Regions from separate parts of the Homo sapiens genome. Here region 1 is linked to region 2. Evidence: fine-mapped expression QTL. A gene starts in region 2. The other region holds a variant in brackets. All regions are shown on one strand. Distances are from middle to middle.

Region 1 (8,474 bases), 220 kb before region 2:
CTTTATGAAAATATAAGCGTTATTTTTTTTCTGAGTTTGTAGAAAGGCAAAGTTCCTGTTGGGGGCTCATTACAGCTGTTGGTGCCTGCACTGACAGTGGCATTGTTAGGGATGGAGCCCCTGAGCTCGGGGGAGACAGCGGAAGCGTGCAGCGTCTGTTTAATGTGAGTGAGGGCTGGCATGCTGCTGGCAGCTCTCAACAGTGAAGCCTGCTGCTCGATAAGGCATTATTATCAGAGCCTGGGGGCATCCAGGGAGCAAAAGATTAGCTGACTGAGCATATATCTAAAATGGGTTATTTTTAAAAAGCAAGCAGTACAAATACTGCAGCTTGTCTTGTTTTAGCATTTAATAATTACACTTTCACTTTACCAGCAAGGCATTGAGTCAGTGGCATTTTATGAAAAGCATCCTCCCAAACCTGAACTTTGTGAGTCAGATTCCCATCCTGTGTGTGGTACATGTGGTTGGATTGTACAAACAGATAATCAGAGTTTTGCAAAATGTTTCCCAACCAGCATGGGAAAACGTGCTGATAGCAATATGATTGGGCTTTGAGGGAGAGCCACTTGCTGGCTTTTTTTCTTTTGTTTCCCATACATGGAAATGCCATTTCAACTTGAAATGTGGATACCTTACCAGAGGATTGCTTGAGCCCGGGAGGTTGAGGCTGCATTAGCGAACTGGGACTGCACCACTGCATTCCAGCCTGGATGACAAAGTGAGACTCCTGTCTCAATTTTTTAAAAACCCACACACAAAAAAAACAACAAAACAAAAAGTAGAACCTTAAATGCTATCTTAAGGCTGAATAGTCTCTAAATATTGAAAGTAGACCCTAGCCAAAAGAGACATTACCTGTTTCTGTAATATAATGAATGGTATTAGTGTACTTATCTTGCATTTTAAATTCAATTCTGTAAATGTTTATGGAGCATGCATTATGTGCCAGGGATGAAGACACAAGAACAAAATGTGGACCTGCCTTTTAATTGCTTACAGTCAAAGGTCATGATAACACCATGTGATGGAGAGAAGAAAGTCATGATTGATCCTCGTGGAGGTTGGAAGGACTTCCCAGAGGAGGGGCTGTGTGAGCTGTGTTTTGAAGATGAATAGGGATCTTATAGTCACAAGAGGAGGGCATAGACTCCCAGACAGAGGTAACAGCAGTGCAAAGGCACAGAGGCTTAAAATTGCAGGATGTGCCCAGGAAACCCCAAATGACTAGATGAGGCAGATTTGTAAGAAGGGAAATGGTGGTGGTTGGCGGCGGGGGTAGGGGGGTGGTGATGAAGAAGCAAAGTCATAATGGGTCTGATGTCCTTTGCTGAGGAGCTTAGACTAAACTGTTTAGGTAAAAGGAGCCAGCAAAATCTTTAAGTGAGGGAGTAACATAAGATTTGCATGTTAGAAGGCTCTCTCTGGCTGCTATGTACAGAGGGAGGCTAATGGCAGCAGATCTGGTGAGGATGCTGGGCCCGTGATCTGGGAACTTGCCTGCCCCAAGGCAGCAATCATGGGAGTGGAGTCAAGGAAACACTAAAGAAGTAGACATGATAGGACTTTTTAAGTGGGAATGGCCAGGGCTCTGGCCATTTGGAAGCCTAAAGAGAATGGAATAGCATGAGTTCGGTTTGGGGGAAATTCAGTGGTAAGATGCTTGTTTGTCAGAAACACACTTGAGATGGGAGATCAGTTTGGTGTCATCCATGTCCTCTTGGTAAGTGGAAACTATAATATAAAATCTTTCAGGCCAGGTGCAGTGGCTCACACCTGTAATCCCAGCACTTTGGGAGGCCAAGGTGAGTGGATCACCTGAGGTCAGGAGTTCGAGACCAGCCTGGCCAACATGGCAAAACCCTGTCTCTACTAAAAATACAAAAATTAGCCGGGCATGGTGGCACGCACCTGTAATCCCAGCTACTCAGGAGGTTGAGGCAGGGAGAATCGCTTGCACCCGGGAGGCAAAGGTTGCAGTGAACCAAGATCACGCCATTGCACTCCAGCCTGGGCAACAGAGCGAGACTCTGTCTTAAAAAAAAAAAAAATCAAAAATCTTTTAGTAGATGTTTATAGAGAGAGAAGAGAGGAGACTTGAAGAAGGAATTCTAAGTAAGGGTTAAGGTTGAGTGGAAAAAAGAAGAAGAATCAGAAGGAAGTGGTTTCATAGTAGGATAAATCAAGTGCTGAGATGAAGTCAGTTCACTAACAGACTCAGAGTTCTATTGGATACGGCATGAGGTTCTTGGTGTCACCATCTTAGGATCTGCTCATTTTTGGGGTTTTAAGAACCTGTCTGAACTCCACTTAGCCAACTGAAGCTTGCCTTCAAAGTTAACACAATGTGCTTTCTCCCATATAAACCTTTTAAGCTGTTTCTGATGACTGTTCCCCTTCCTGTTAGAGCTCCACCTCTTTTAATTTAGCCTCCATACCTTTAGAGTAAGGTCTGCAACTTTCTTCCTTAATTGACAGTGGAGATCAATATGTAACCCAGATTGCAAAAATGGTTTGGGAACACTGCATGTTCTCACTCATAGGTGGGAGTTGAACACATGGACACAGGGTGGGAAACATCACACACTGGGGCCTGGCAGGGGATGGGGGGCTGGGGGAGGGATAGCATTAGGAGAAATACCTAATGTAAATGACGAGTTGATGGGTACAGCAAACCAACATGGCACATATATACCTATGTAACAAACCTGCACGTTGTGCACATGTACCCTAGAACTTAAAGTATAATTTTAAAAAAATTTTTTAATAGTTTGGGAAGAAATTGTGGGCATGTCATTTGCTTGAACAGATTTTGTTCCCCAGCCAGAGGACCAGAGAAGAGTTTGTCATGGCTACAGTGGAGGAATCAAACTCAGAATAGCATGTGAAAGGCACATTCCACACAGAAACTTCGGCCCGTGCATCAGCACTGCAGACAGGGGGAGAGGAAATGAATTCTCAGCCAGTAGATTCCCAGGCATCACCTTGAGGCAGATATGGCATATTCTTGGCCATAGTCTCTACTTCTCTAACTGGGCAAAGTGTCTAATCAACTATAACCCAAAATATCTTCCCACATGGCATAAGTGTCGAATTCATACATAGATCAGAGGGAGAAATGAAATTGTGGTTGTCTTAAAAGTTTACACAGTTTAGGGATCTCCATCATGAAAAATGATCTAAATAAATGAAATGGTATTTTTACTCTTTATCCTACAAGCCCTATACAAACTAAGTCCATAAATATCCTATTTGATGCTTAAACCAAAAGCTTTATAAAGAGAATTTCACTATGTGAAATAATGACTTGAAGAAATCCTATTGTGGATGCTTTTGTTAAGTTGCTAAACCTTTTTTAAAAAGTAGATAATCATCCAAGATATCTTCTTTGTGACTCTTAAGTTTTAGTGTATTTCAAATGTGGATAGTTTTTGACTAGGAGGTTTGTTCAAACGTTCTTCTCGACCACTAGGGGGTGCTCTAAAGGTTAGTGATGTCTAAATGATTGACCAATCAATTAAAACACCGTGCCCAGTTAGCAATCATCTCCACTGAGAGATGCCTGCTTTACCAGGCTAAAAAAATGATCTTTATCATGGCATAGAGACTATAAAAGCTGTGTCCTTTTATTTTCATTAACCTAATTAGAAGTCAAGCTAATTGTAGGACTTCATAGAACTGGCATCGGGAATAGCATGCAACTGTTAAAAAAATCATGGTCTTGATGACTAATTATATCAGGAAATAATATGCAATATAAATGAAAAGAGAAGTGTATGTTTTTTACTTTTTCCTTTCTGTTTTTAAAACATGCTATAAAATGTTAAGTATAATTAGGACACAAAGGAAAAATTAAATCTAGTTAACATTACCTTGAAAACTTCTTATTTGCCCTGAAATCTCCAGTTCTTTGGAAGCTAAAAGCTTGAGACTTCTATATCTGGTTGTCAGGATTAGGGTGATTTTATTTGAATTTTCTTTATTTTCTTCTCAATTTTCTATCTATTTACTTTGTAATTACATTTGAACTATGGATATGTAATTAGTTTTATAAATAGAAAAATCAAAGCTTTATAAAGGAAAATATAGCATCAGCAGACCTGATTGTCCTACTTAACTCTTCCACAAACTGTTTTAACTATGGGCAAGGTACTTCACTTCTTTGCCCTTTGCTTCTGTAAAATGGTTGGGTGAAACGAATCTTGGCAGTTTGTTCCAGCTCTTCTAAAGTTCCATTTTAAATTTTACCAGGAGACAAAAATGGTTCCTATTATGTTCACTCTTGAAGCATTTATTAACCCTCACAATTGGCCAGGCACTGTGCTTGGTGCTATTAAAGATATCTCACTTAGTATCTGGGCTCTGCCTTCAAGGGTTTCCGGTCCCCCATGGAAAAGAAGACCAAGTGCACAGATCCATCCCAGCCCTACACAATGATACTGGAAAGCTGTATGTGGACCAGAAATGCCAAAGGAGGTTCCATCAGGAAGAGGGGACTTGTGCTCTGACTCTGCTGTACCCCTGATCATATGTTACCACTTATTTATGCTTTAAAGAACATCCTGGCCTGGATGTTTCACAGTGTGTTAAACTGCAAGGTAGATTTCCTCTTTGTTTCCCTGGTCTACTGTATATATGCCAGTAAGCCTTGTCAGGTTTCATTATGAGAGATGGCTATAATGCATCCAGATTACTAGGAAAACACTTGGTCTTTGAAAAGAGCTGTGTGTCCCTCTAGGTTTGAAATGCAAAGTCCTAAGGCTTTGTTATATTCAGGACATATTTCACCTTCCCAAAGACTAGTCTCAGCTCAGACAGGATGTATCTTGCCTGTGGGCTTGACACAGGGGTTGCTGGGTGATTGAATTAACCTCTGACATCTTCTGGGCTGTGCAAAATGATAAGTTCAAAAAAAAAATGCAGCCATTAGACTCCTTCTCATTGTTTCTTCCTTGAAGCCTTTGTAATCTTTCTTAATGTGGTTAAATTCAAGTTATTTCCAGTTCAGACATGGTGCAATCAGATTTCCTCATGCGGGTGCTTTTCCACTGTGACCTCTTTGACGTCAGTAAC[T/C]GTTTCCTGTTTATTTGAACTCCCTGCTCACCCTGTAGATGACTTTGTCTGAGAAAAATAATAAAGCAACGGTACTTAGGAGAAGTTCAACACTGCTATCTGTTACGGAGATTTCCTTCTCCTTTCCCCCAGCCGTCAATAGCACTCTGCAGCTTTTCATACAGCATGAGCTTGTTATTCATGTAGAAATACTCCAAGGCAGTTCTTAGAACTTGGGTAAGTAAGAATAGATGTGGCTCCCAGCTTAACATTGCCTTAAAGCAATAGCTACATTTTTCATAACTTTTACGTGTTATGTCTATCTTTGAATTATTTCCAAAAGGTAATCTGCATCCTCACTATAATTCTGAGTATGGTGGCTATTTCCTACTGCCTTGGTTTCTGGAATGATACATCTTCAAATGCAGTCTTTAAATCATAGAGACAACAGATTTTTTCTTTAAATGGAGACAAATCTTTGCAATCTGGTTCTGAGATTGAATCAACTTTATAGAAAGGAAGAATAACTGCTATAAAAAGTCTCGCTTACAGTAATATGTTTTTAGTACATAAGGAGGGCATTTGTTTTGCAATAATAATTATTATAAAGCCCCTAAAATAGAAAATATGAATTACCAGTCAGTGTTAGAAAACTTATCAGAACTGAAACCTTTGTTAGTATGTTTTGGTTATCAAATCTAGTTTTGTAACCCCTTGCTTAGCAAGCATTTCCCAGAAAGAAAAGTCCTTACCCGGTCAAGGCCATTACCATATAGCATCGGGAAACATCCCTGTGTCCCAACAGCTGGGCTAGGACTCCTTCCACCTCCTTCGACCCTCTATACCCTTGTCCCACACTGAGGGTTGGGGGAGCTGCTGCAGTTGCTGTTTCGGCTGCTGTTTCATTCCTGTCCACTTGTGAGTGTGTGTGTACCTCCGCCAGTCTTGGAGGTCTGTGAAGGAGGCCTCGAGACCCAGTGCATGCAGCTCACTGCCACGTGTGCCACAGCCACAGCCAAGGGGCCTTCCTATGCCTCATGCATCAGGCCCTTTGGAGCCCTGGGAGCAGACGGCCATGGCGGCTGAAGCTGCAGTGGATGCACTCATGATGATGAGGATAATAATAGTTGCTAACATTTCTTGAGCATTTCACTTATGGTATGCCAGACACTATTCAAAGCCCTTAGCTTAAATCATTTAATCCTCACAAACCTGTGAGTTGGGTTGTCTTATTATCCCCATTTTGCAGAAGTGAGTTTTGTGAGAGAGAAGCTAAATACAGCACAGCAGGAGTTGCTCTTGGACCTCAAGCATCCTGGCCCAGAGCCCAGGTGTCGCCACTGCCCTGGGCTTCCTCTTAGTCATACCAGGGACTTGGGCACTGGGCACAAAATCTCCTCTTTATATAATGTAGTGGTACCAATAGCTTCTATTGATTGAGATTCTTTTCTGGGCTTGGCACTGTATGAGGCACTTGGCTTCTGGTTTAATCTTTACATGATCACTGTAGTTATAGATGTTATTATCCCAGATTTATAAATAAATAAGGAAACTTCTTACCCCTTAAAAATGGGTGTGTGTGCCATGCATGGTTGCTCACGCCTGTAATCCCAGCACTTTGGGAGGCCGAGGTAGGATTGCTTGAGCCTAGGAGTTCAAGACCAGCCTGTGCAACACAAAGATACCCAGTCTATACAAAAAATTAGCCAGATGTGGTGGCACAAACCTGTGGTCCCAGCCGCACAGGAGGCTGAGGTTGGAAGGATCACTTAAGCCCAGAAGTTCAGCGCTGCAGTGAGCCATGATCCTGCCACTGCCCTCCAGCCTGGGTGACAGAGCAAGACCCTGTCTCAAAAAGAAAAACAAAAATTGTGTGTATTTTAGCTGAAATTCTCCTGGTAGCAGAAAATTTACTTCAGGTAGTAAGAAAACTTTCTTAAGGCTATGCAAAAAAAAGAACTAAAAATAAAGATTCAGAGGTACAACGGATGTCTCATGCAACCCAAGGGCAGGAGTTGGCCAGCTCTCTCGGCTGATCTGAAACCAGAAAGACATGAGGAACCCTGGCAGTTTTGCTCTTGGCTCACTCACCCTCCCTGATCTCTTGTCTCTGCCTCACTCTATGTTTCTGCTTCATTCTTCTCCTTCACCCACCCACCTGTCCATCCACCCACCCAGTCTTTCTCCACTCTCTTATACCCAGGCATTTCCCACGTTTACACTGCAAAAGCAGTTTCCGTTTCCTAACTCATGTTTCCTCAGTTCCTGCACACAGCCTAGACTAAATTAAAAGCTTTTTACCTCAGTTTCAGTTTTCTGGAAAAGAGACTCTGAGCAGGTGCAGCTTGATCTAACTGGCTGTGCACAGATGCTGAGCGTTTACCCATGCGGCCAGGCTGGAGCATGGGTAAATGCTGAGGAAGGGATCACCATGAGCTGAGCAGATGCCTCCAAAGATGTTTGCCCCAGTGACCTTACAGGATCTTGCCCTGCCTGGTCCATGCTCGCTCTCCAGTCACTTTCCTTAGTTAGTATCATCTTGTCACTGGTACCATCCTGGCATAGCACTTTCATCCACCCGGATGTTATGTCTCTTGTTCATACAAATTGCCCATCAGCTTTAACTCCTATCGAACAGCCCTTAATGAGGGGGCCTTAGGGAATGCACCTTACTTATACTGACAGCCATTATTCGGGGGATATTTTTAGCCCCTTGGGCCTGGGGAAGGAATAGTTCTGAACTGATAGCCAGGGCAGAGAGTGGACCCAGACTGCAGCAGGTCAGTGGCATCAGAGCAAGTGACGACAGGAATTCTATTATCACCAGGCAGCAGCTCCTCTGCCTCCCACACCTGTAACTCACACCAGGTGTGGGACAAAGGGATTTCTGAGTTGCTTTCACTCCCACCGGTGTTCATCACCCCATGTTAATGACTTGTACTTGTGGTTGGCTGAATCAGGGACAAAAGAGAGGAGCAGGGACAAAGGGCTTAGCCACTTGGCTTTAGAAGTGATGTTAAACCGGTCTCCTGGCCTTGAGATTTCCTACCACACAGGTCAGGGCAGACTTCACCTGACAGAAGCCAAAAGCCTCAGGTAAAGCTGTACAGATGTGCAGGCTCAGTTTCTAGGAAAATGGACTTTAGAAAAACCAAAATGGTTCTATGCACAGGTTTAAATACAGAAACAGTCATCTTTGCCATCTCTGTCTAGAGTGGGATTTGGGAAACCCCTCTCTGCCATAGGAGTGACTCACTACAACCATAATCCATCTTCCAGTACTTCCCTAAATGCAGGATTTCCAAAAAATGCTTCACCTAGTTGCTTCACAATTGAATTTGTGAAGCATGATTTGGTGTTTGTTGAGTCATCAGTGATACTAATTCTTAAATAGCACAGACTGAGAGTAGAGCTGTAGGTGA
Region 2 (8,474 bases):
AAGTATTGAGGCCCCTCTCAGACTGAGCCTCCTTGGAGTTTTTTAACTCTCAAGCTAGTCTGCACTGAGCCTCCAGCAATTCCCCAATTACAGTTTAGTGTTCCTACTGATGTTGGCTCCAGCTGTGAAACTAGCTTCAGCTTCTGGCTTCTGTGCCTGGGCTCTGCTCCTGGTAAACTGTGATTCTCTGAAAAGCTGTGATTCTCTGTATCTATCTGTCTGTCTCTCTAGTTTTTAGGGCAGTGGTTTTTCCTGTGACCTCAATTCTCTGGTGGATCTAAGAAGAGTTACTGATTTCAGTTTGCTTAGCTTTTTTTTTTCTTGTTGTGAGGATGGGAGTGACAACTTCCAAGCTCTTTACATGTTGAACAGGAAACTGAAAGCCCCTTGGTGTTCCTTTGTAAATTCATCTTAAAAATATTTATCATAATTGAAAAGTGCTAATATCAAATTTTCAGTCTGTTTATATTCCCCCTAAACTCAGATAAATATACATTTTATTTTGTGTGTCTGTGTGTGTGGGTTTTGTTGTTGTTTGTTTTTTGTGTTTTTTTTTAAGATATAGGGTCTTGCTCTGTCAAGGCTGGAGTGCAGTGGCACAATCGTACATCTCTGCAGCCTCGAACTCCTGGGAGAAAGTGATCCTCCCGCTTTAGCCTTCAGAGTAGCTACGACTACAGGCACTAACCACCAAGCCCAGCTAATTTTTAAAATTTTTTGTAGAGATGGGAGTTTCACTTTGTTGCCCAGGCTGGTCTCAAACTCTTGGCCTCAAGTGATCCTCCTGCCTCAGCCTCCCAAAATGTTGGAATCACAGATACTTTGTGTCTTGATTCTTGAAAGGAAAAAACAAAGATTTTTAATGCCTCTTATCTTGTACGCACTTTCCTTCCAAACAATACCCTTTTGCTGCCATTGTTCTCGTTATGAATAGCTTAAAGAAAAAGAAACAACTAAGGGTAGTAATAGGCCAGGAATCACTTACTGAATACTAGGTCTTCTTGTATAGTTTGATACCCTATAAATTGTGTGCATCTGATGCATTTCACCTTCAAAAGGCTCAATGCTCTGTATTATTTAGTAGTAATCAAAATTTCAAGTTTTACTTAACCTCCTGATTCACTGCCCAATTTCCTAATAAATACGGGCTAAGGGTCAATGGGGTCATTTGCAAGTAATCTTGTAGTCTACTCAGAAAGTTCTGCAAAGTTAGAAAGTGATTAAATGACTGTTTGTTAAGATATACTTACATAGTAATAACCTAAATGCATTTGTTAAGTGGTTGTAGAGAGAGGGATTTAAAATTTTATCCTATATGAAATTTTCCTTTTTGGTGTCTGTTATTTAATAGGATTGTTTGAATTAGGGGATACTATTTGGTGCCTTTGTAACTATATGAAAATTAGTTGGTTGAATATTACTGCTTTCCATGTTCATATTTATATTTGTATAGACATATATATATATACACATATACTACTTTCCTTTCCATTTTCATATTTATATTTGTGTATACACATATACATAAACATATATTTTATACATTTTTGAAAAGGAAAATTAACTTAAGGGCATATTTAATGAATATTCAAAAATTTTTTTGCTGATCAAATTATCATTCTGCTTTAAACTTTTGAAATGATCCAAAAAAATTTTAAATGACTTAGATTTACTGTTACAAAATGCTTGTCTTTTGATGTCACAAACATTATATACTATAATCACTGGCCAGAGATAATTGCTATAAGTATAATGAAAAGGGAAATGATGGAAGATCTCTGCAGCTATCCTCATAAATGAGGGTGGGAACACGATGGGCAGTTCCAAAGTTGAAAATAGAGAATATATGTGGATTTATATTAACATAATTGGTATTCTTGGATAGTTAAAAATGGCTAAACTGTAGGAGAAGCCCGAGTAATTACTGTTAACAGAGGAATAAATTTGAGGGCAATAATAATGATGATAGGCCAGGCACTGTGGCTCATGCCTGTAATCCCAGCACTTTGGGAACCCGAGGCGAGCGGACCACCTGAGGTCAGGAGTTCGAGAGCAGCCTGGCCAACATGGTGAAACCTCGTCTCTACTAAAAATAGAAAAATTATCCGAGTGTGGTGGTGCGTGCCTGTAATCCCAGCTACTTGGGAGGCTGAGGCAGGAGAATCACTTGTACCTGGGAGGCGGAGTTGCAGTGAGCCGAAATCGCGCCACTGCGCTCCAGCCTGTGGGCCAGAGCGAGACTCCGCCTCAGAATAATAATAATGATAATAATAATAACGCCACCAACAATACTAAGAGCTAACATTTACTGAGTGCTTACTATGCACCAGATATTGTTCTAAGTATACATTTATTATCTCATTTAACCATCCATAATACTGTGGTATAGACACTTTTATATCCATTTTATAAATAAGTAAACTGAGTTATGGAGAGATTAAACGACTTGCCAGTAAGATTCAAAGCCTGTGTACAAGCTCACGCTTGATTCTGGAGCCAGTGTTCTTAACACAGTATCTTGAGAATGTTAAACTAAAAAGTTTTTAATTTACAGTATTCTTTCCACAATTAAAAAAGAAATTATGAGTAATTATTTTTAGTTCTTTCTTCTCTTCAGGCATTTCCCATGGTTCTTTTCAAGACATAATACATATCATTTAGTGTTGTAGATCTGAAAAAACAAAAGTAGCGTGAAGATCAAAAATTTTCTAAAGAGACGGAGTCTCGCTACGTTCCCTAGGCTGGAACACCCAGGCTTCTCCAGCCTCACACCTCTGAGTAGCTGGAACCACCCTGTCCGCTAAGGTCAATGTTTAATCGTATCTTTGTAGGTCTACTGACCAGTTAAAAAGAGGTGCTGTATACATTGGTTGTTGTCTTGTCAGAGTTTGATGCTTCTATATAGACCATTGTTTTTACATGCTAATACAATTGAAAGCCACTACAGATATTTATATTTACAACCCAAAGCTAGGTTTTAACAAGAAACTCATAAGGCAAAGGTGAGAAGTAAAATAATTTAGCGCCAAGTGGAGATATATGTGCAATGCTACTTTGTTGGGCTCAAAACATATTTTTCTTTTAGAAGACTGACAGGCTTGAAGTTTATGCCTCCAAAGACAAAAGTGATTATGTTTTGTTTAGTAGCTTGCAAAGTTGCCAAAGGCCATTTTTTCTACTCTTTCCCTGAAATTGGTTTATATGCTTATTAAAGTCATTTATACCTATTTGCAAATGCTTAACATAGTTTCAGATTTTAAGATTTCCCTGCAACTTTATTTCCCTTGAAGTTTACAGCAACAGGAGTTCATTTTTATTTTTAATTGCATTTATTCAGTAAGTAAACTCCGCCACAGAAAAACTTAGTAGACAAGGTGAGTTCCCCTGTGCTCCGTGGCAAAGAGTGCGGTGGGTGACATTGACCCATGGTTAGGTAATCTGGTAAGGAAAGACCCCGTTGTAACACATCTGAGCAACGAGACCAAAGGAAGGGCTTGCTGCCACGAGGCGAAGTCTGCTTTTTTGAACAGAGAGCCCAGCAGAGTTGGGCGGCAATCGTGCCCAGCACTGAGGCCGAGGAGAAAGAGAGCAGGAGCATTACATTACTGCACCAAGAGTAGGAAAATATGATGCATGTTTGGGACCAGGCAACCGAAATCCCTTCTCAGCAGCGCCTCCCAAAGCCGGGCACCGCCTTCCTTCGGAGAAGGCGCAGAGTCCCCAGACTCGGGCTGAGCCGCACCCCCATCTCCTTTCTCTTTCCTCCGCCGCTAAACACAGACGAGCACGTGAGCGTCGCAGCCCGTCCCAGCTGTGCCTCAGCTGACCGCCTCCTGATTGGCTGAGAGCGGCGTGGGCTGGGGTGGGGACTTGCCGCCTGCGTCGCTCGCCATTGGATCTCGAGGAACCCGCCTCCACCTCAGGTGAGGCGGGCTTGCGGGAGCGCGCGCCGGCCTGGGCAGGCGAGCGGGCGCGCTCCCGCCCCCTCTCCCCTCCCCGCGCGCCCGAGCGCGCCTCCGCCCTTGCCCGCCCCCTGACGCTGCCTCAGCTCCTCAGTGCACAGTGCTGCCTCGTCTGAGGGGACAGGAGGATCACCCTCTTCGTCGCTTCGGCCAGTGTGTCGGGCTGGGCCCTGACAAGCCACCTGAGGAGAGGCTCGGAGCCGGGCCCGGACCCCGGCGATTGCCGCCCGCTTCTCTCTAGTCTCACGAGGGGTTTCCCGCCTCGCACCCCCACCTCTGGACTTGCCTTTCCTTCTCTTCTCCGCGTGTGGAGGGAGCCAGCGCTTAGGCCGGAGCGAGCCTGGGGGCCGCCCGCCGTGAAGACATCGCGGGGACCGATTCACCATGGAGGGCGCCGGCGGCGCGAACGACAAGAAAAAGTAAGCCCATTCCCTCGGCCCGCCGCCTTCTCCCCCGGCGACCCCGCCCGCCTGCCCGCCCTGGGCTCCTGGGCCGGCCTCGGCGTTAATGGGATTGGGGGGGGCAGCCTTTTTGTTTCTGCTGCTGCTCCCCTCCCCTCTCTTCCCCCAACCTCGCCGGCCGGGCTCCCCCGCTGTCCACGTCGCCATCTTGTCGTGGGGGGTGGGAGACGCCTCGAAAGTGCTTTCAGGGGCCGGGGTCTGAGCCCTGCTTGCCCTCCCCGCCGGCCGTGGGGGCCTCGCGCCGCCCACCTACCCGCCTCAAAAACCCAGCCTGCTCTGTGGCCCCATCCGGAGGGGACTTTACCCAGCCTGAAAACCCCGGGAAGAGAAATGAGCTGCAGCTCGGTAGCCGCGGTTTGCACCCGGAGCTTCCGCTCCTTCCCGCCCCCATCCTCTCCAGTTCCATTGAAAACTCGGCCCTGGGGCGGACCCTGCACGCTGGTCCTGGCTTTCCAGTGGACTTGGGGCCTTGAGTTCCCGACTGAGGGACTCGCGTGGTCGGATGCGATCTTGTCCTGTAGTTGTCCAGCCGTCGCGGGTGTCTTTGCCTTTGTGCATTAGGGATTTGCCGCGATGGCCTTAAGATGCGAACTTTTTAGTTTGCACGTGCAGGTTTTGTTTCGTTTTAATCGCCTTGAAAAACTTGCCTAGACTGAGAGTCAGAGTAATGGGAATTTAGGGAAATGGCAACATTTTAAAGAGAACTTCAGAATTGGATACTTGAGTTCATATCACCTGTCACGAGAACGCAGATATTATAAATGAATATATGCCTCATTCATTCTTCAAATAATGAAAATGTAGGGGCTGGTTAAATTTAGGCAGTTTTAATGATACTGAAAAAAGTATATGATGAGTGAATGAAATGCGGCACTAAAATGTTGCAAAAATTTTCGAACTCTGTCTCATTTTCCTGAAATTGAAGTATATTAAAGGAAAACCGTCAACATATATCTAAAGTAAGTAATCACTCGGTTAGAACTTAATGCAAGTTTTATAAATCACCTTGAAGTTTGAGTCTAAGGGGTACATTAGAGATTAAGAATTGTGAGTTGGACCAGTGGTGTTAAGAGCGGACTCCCCCATCCCCCAACACACACACAATTTTGCCCACTTTGGCATTTTAACTTTTAAGGAAATCACTTAAGGAATTGAAGATTTAGAGTAAGAGTTTTGGTTAGTAGACTGGCTTTGCTGTTAAATCCTTCCACTCTTCTGGCAGAGAGATTAATTTCCCTAATCAGTATCAGCAGAAGATAAACTTGTTTATATTCCTGCTGTTTTGTAGATCCCTTCTCCTGGTCCTTCTTCAATAGAATATTAAATTCTTAGTTTGTATACAGCAGAGAAGGTCACTTATAAAATTCAAAAAGTGAGCAAACAGGTCTAGATTAATTCCAAGAGTTACCAGGAATTAATTGCAGTTTATTTTGCGGAGGTGATTACAGTGCTTTTGATGAAATGATAAAGCTGCTATATTGTAAACCTAAGGCAGATTACCTCTGTGTAGTGCCAGTTTTCTATCCTTATTATATATTGAATCATACTTAATACAATGCATTAAATTATGTACCACTTTTTTTATATACAGTATCGAACTCATTGTTTTGCCATTCATCCGTTCAGAATATCAGAAGCAGTTTTGAAACGAATTAATAAATTAGCTACTGTTCATCAGCCCCAATTCTAAATAAGCTCTTAGATTTTCCTCAGCCCATCTGTTACTTTCAAAATTTTCTCATTTGAAAACTTGGCAACCTTGGATTGGATGGATTCATATTTCTTAGTATAGAAGTTCTTGATATAACTGAAAAATTAAGTTAAACACTTAATAAGTGGTGGTTACTCAGCACTTTTAGATGCTGTTTATAATAGATGACCTTTTCTAACTAATTTACAGTTTTTTGAAAGATAACTGAGAGGTTGAGGGACGGAGATTTTCTTCAAGCAATTTTTTTTTTCATTTTAAATGAGCTCCCAATGTCGGAGTTTGGAAAACAAATTTGTCTTTTTAAAAGAAGGTCTAGGAAACTCAAAACCTGAAGAATTGGAAGAAATCAGAATAGAAAATGGGTATGGTTATGATACTGTAGATTTAACGCAGGACATTTCATGTTGTTCCTAGTTATAGGGGCTGAACTTATTTAATAGCACGTGCATTTTGATTTTTAGATTTTTAAGGGAATGTCAAGAGAGTAATGATTCTGTTTCAGGCTTCAGGCCAGACTCCTTCAGAGTTTTCCAAAACAAATAATTACTGAATCATTAAAGTAAAATTTCTGAGAATAGATATTCCTTAATTTCCTTCATTAACTTTGGCCATTAAAAGTCAAGAAGCTCTCTCATTTATTAGCAAACTTTTCTCCTTATGATTCTATTTTGATTGTCCTTTTGTTTGAGGAAGCAGCATATGGTGGTTAAGAGCATAGGATCTAGAGGCAGATACCTCTGAGTTAAGGGTCCCAGCCCTTCACTTGTGAGCTTGAGCAAGTTACTGAATGCCTCTGAGCCTCTTTCCTCCTTTTGAAATGATGATAAGAATAGCAGCCATCTGAGCAGTTATTGTAAAGGTTAAATGAGATAATGCTTGTGAAGCACTTAGCCCATTGCAGGAGTCTTGATGACACTGTGTACTTGAAAATAGATGTTACCTGTTAAAATTCTTGTTTAAACTTCCACAACTCTTAAAACTCTTTTTTGCTAGTCCTTCCAGCTGTTTCCTTTAGTTTCTTTTCTGTGTCTTCATGCATCTTTTCTATCTCCTGAAAGTGAAAAGACTAACATTGGATCCAGAGCTTGAAAAGCGTTTTTTTCCTGTTACAATGGGCAAAAGAGTACATCCTTGGGTTATATTGGCACCTAGTATCAGTTATTTTTCTTGAGCATCTGATCTGCTCTCTACTCTAGTGGAGGCCTCCTGCTTCACAATTGCTCACCCCTGTGTTTTCTCCCCAAATAGAATACTGAGTTTACTCTGGACTCTAGAGTCAAACATACACAGTATTCTAGTCTTACTGTTCATTTAAGCAAGATATGTGCAAGACACTGCATTCTTAGTACTGGCAGTAAGTTAAAACATTTTTCGTCTTGATGCCAAAGTTTAGACAATTTTATAAAAATTAACCTTTGTAAAAGATAATGAGTTGATAAAATATTCTCAGTAAAGCAGCTACGTGGTAGAAAAACTGTCCTTTGCTTATGAGTTTCTCCAGAGTTAAGACCATTGGGTTCCATCTGAAGGCAAGACTTCAAGCTTGTCTTACTGGTCTGTTTTGTGGCTCAATTTGTATGAAGTCTATGCACTCTTCCACACGTGTGTATTTACTGAACTATCGAGTTATTTTAGACTGAGAAAGTATTGGAGTTCATTCCTACGGTCCACTGCAGAGCACCTTGTGCAGTTTGGAGAATGTCAACTTTTCTACCTGTTAACTTCCATTGTCTTTACTTTTAACGCCATTGTCTGTGACTCTAATGGTGTCACGGCTCAGGGTTTAGATTTTGTGGTTACATTCTATTCTTGTATGTCAAGAGTGGTGTATAGAAAGCTGAGGGGGATTATTTAGTCTCTTGACTGATTTTTTTTTTTTTTCTGAAGAACTCAGTTTATTATGTTTGGTGGTGAAATAAAAATTGATGTGCATGGATGTTAAAGATTTGGGTTAAATTGTGTGTTCATAGATGCCTTCTCTTAGTATATAATTTTTTAAATTTAGATACTTAAAATACTGTATCCCTTTATCTAAGATTAACATAAGTCTGTTTCTTAACCAGGATAAAAAAATCTAAATTTAAATGTGATGTTGGATGAGTTTCCAATCAAGAAATTGATTTTTTAAACTTTGTGACTAGTTATCCAGTGGGTGGATTTTACCCAGTGTGTGTATGTGTTTTCTGCTTAACTCTGGAAGGTTAGAAAGAGAATTTGAAACTAAGACAAGCCAAGCTTCTTGTTGCTCAGTATTTTTGGTAAAAATATGGTCAGATTGTTTAAATTAACTATAGGCTTTGGAATTTTAAAAATAATTATATCTCTTGGTCTCTTGACACA

The links.
Region 1: its variant is fine-mapped to the expression of HIF1A in whole blood (TOPMed, PIP above 0.99).

What each region holds. Positions count from the first base shown.
Region 1 is chr14:61,471,957-61,480,430 of GRCh38, forward strand. All of the region lies in intron 9 of PRKCH (protein kinase C eta), which reads left to right. Among named protein-coding and RNA genes, the nearest start is that of PRKCH-AS2, 69 kb to the right of the region's middle. RefSeq lists enhancers at 4,772-4,871, 4,982-5,061, 5,695-5,754, 6,832-7,001, 7,599-7,768 and a cis regulatory region at 6,917. The variant T/C (reference allele first, on the strand shown) is at 5,074.
Region 2 is chr14:61,691,459-61,699,932 of GRCh38, forward strand. HIF1A (hypoxia inducible factor 1 subunit alpha) reads left to right here and starts at 4,055. Exons shown (of 15, transcript NM_001530.4): 1 at 4,055-4,381. The coding sequence starts at 4,347. It overlaps HIF1A-AS1 (HIF1A antisense RNA 1), which reads right to left and starts at 4,365. Exons shown (of 2, transcript NR_047116.1): 1 at 4,249-4,365. RefSeq lists an enhancer at 3,374-3,743 and silencers at 3,814-4,113, 4,414-4,513.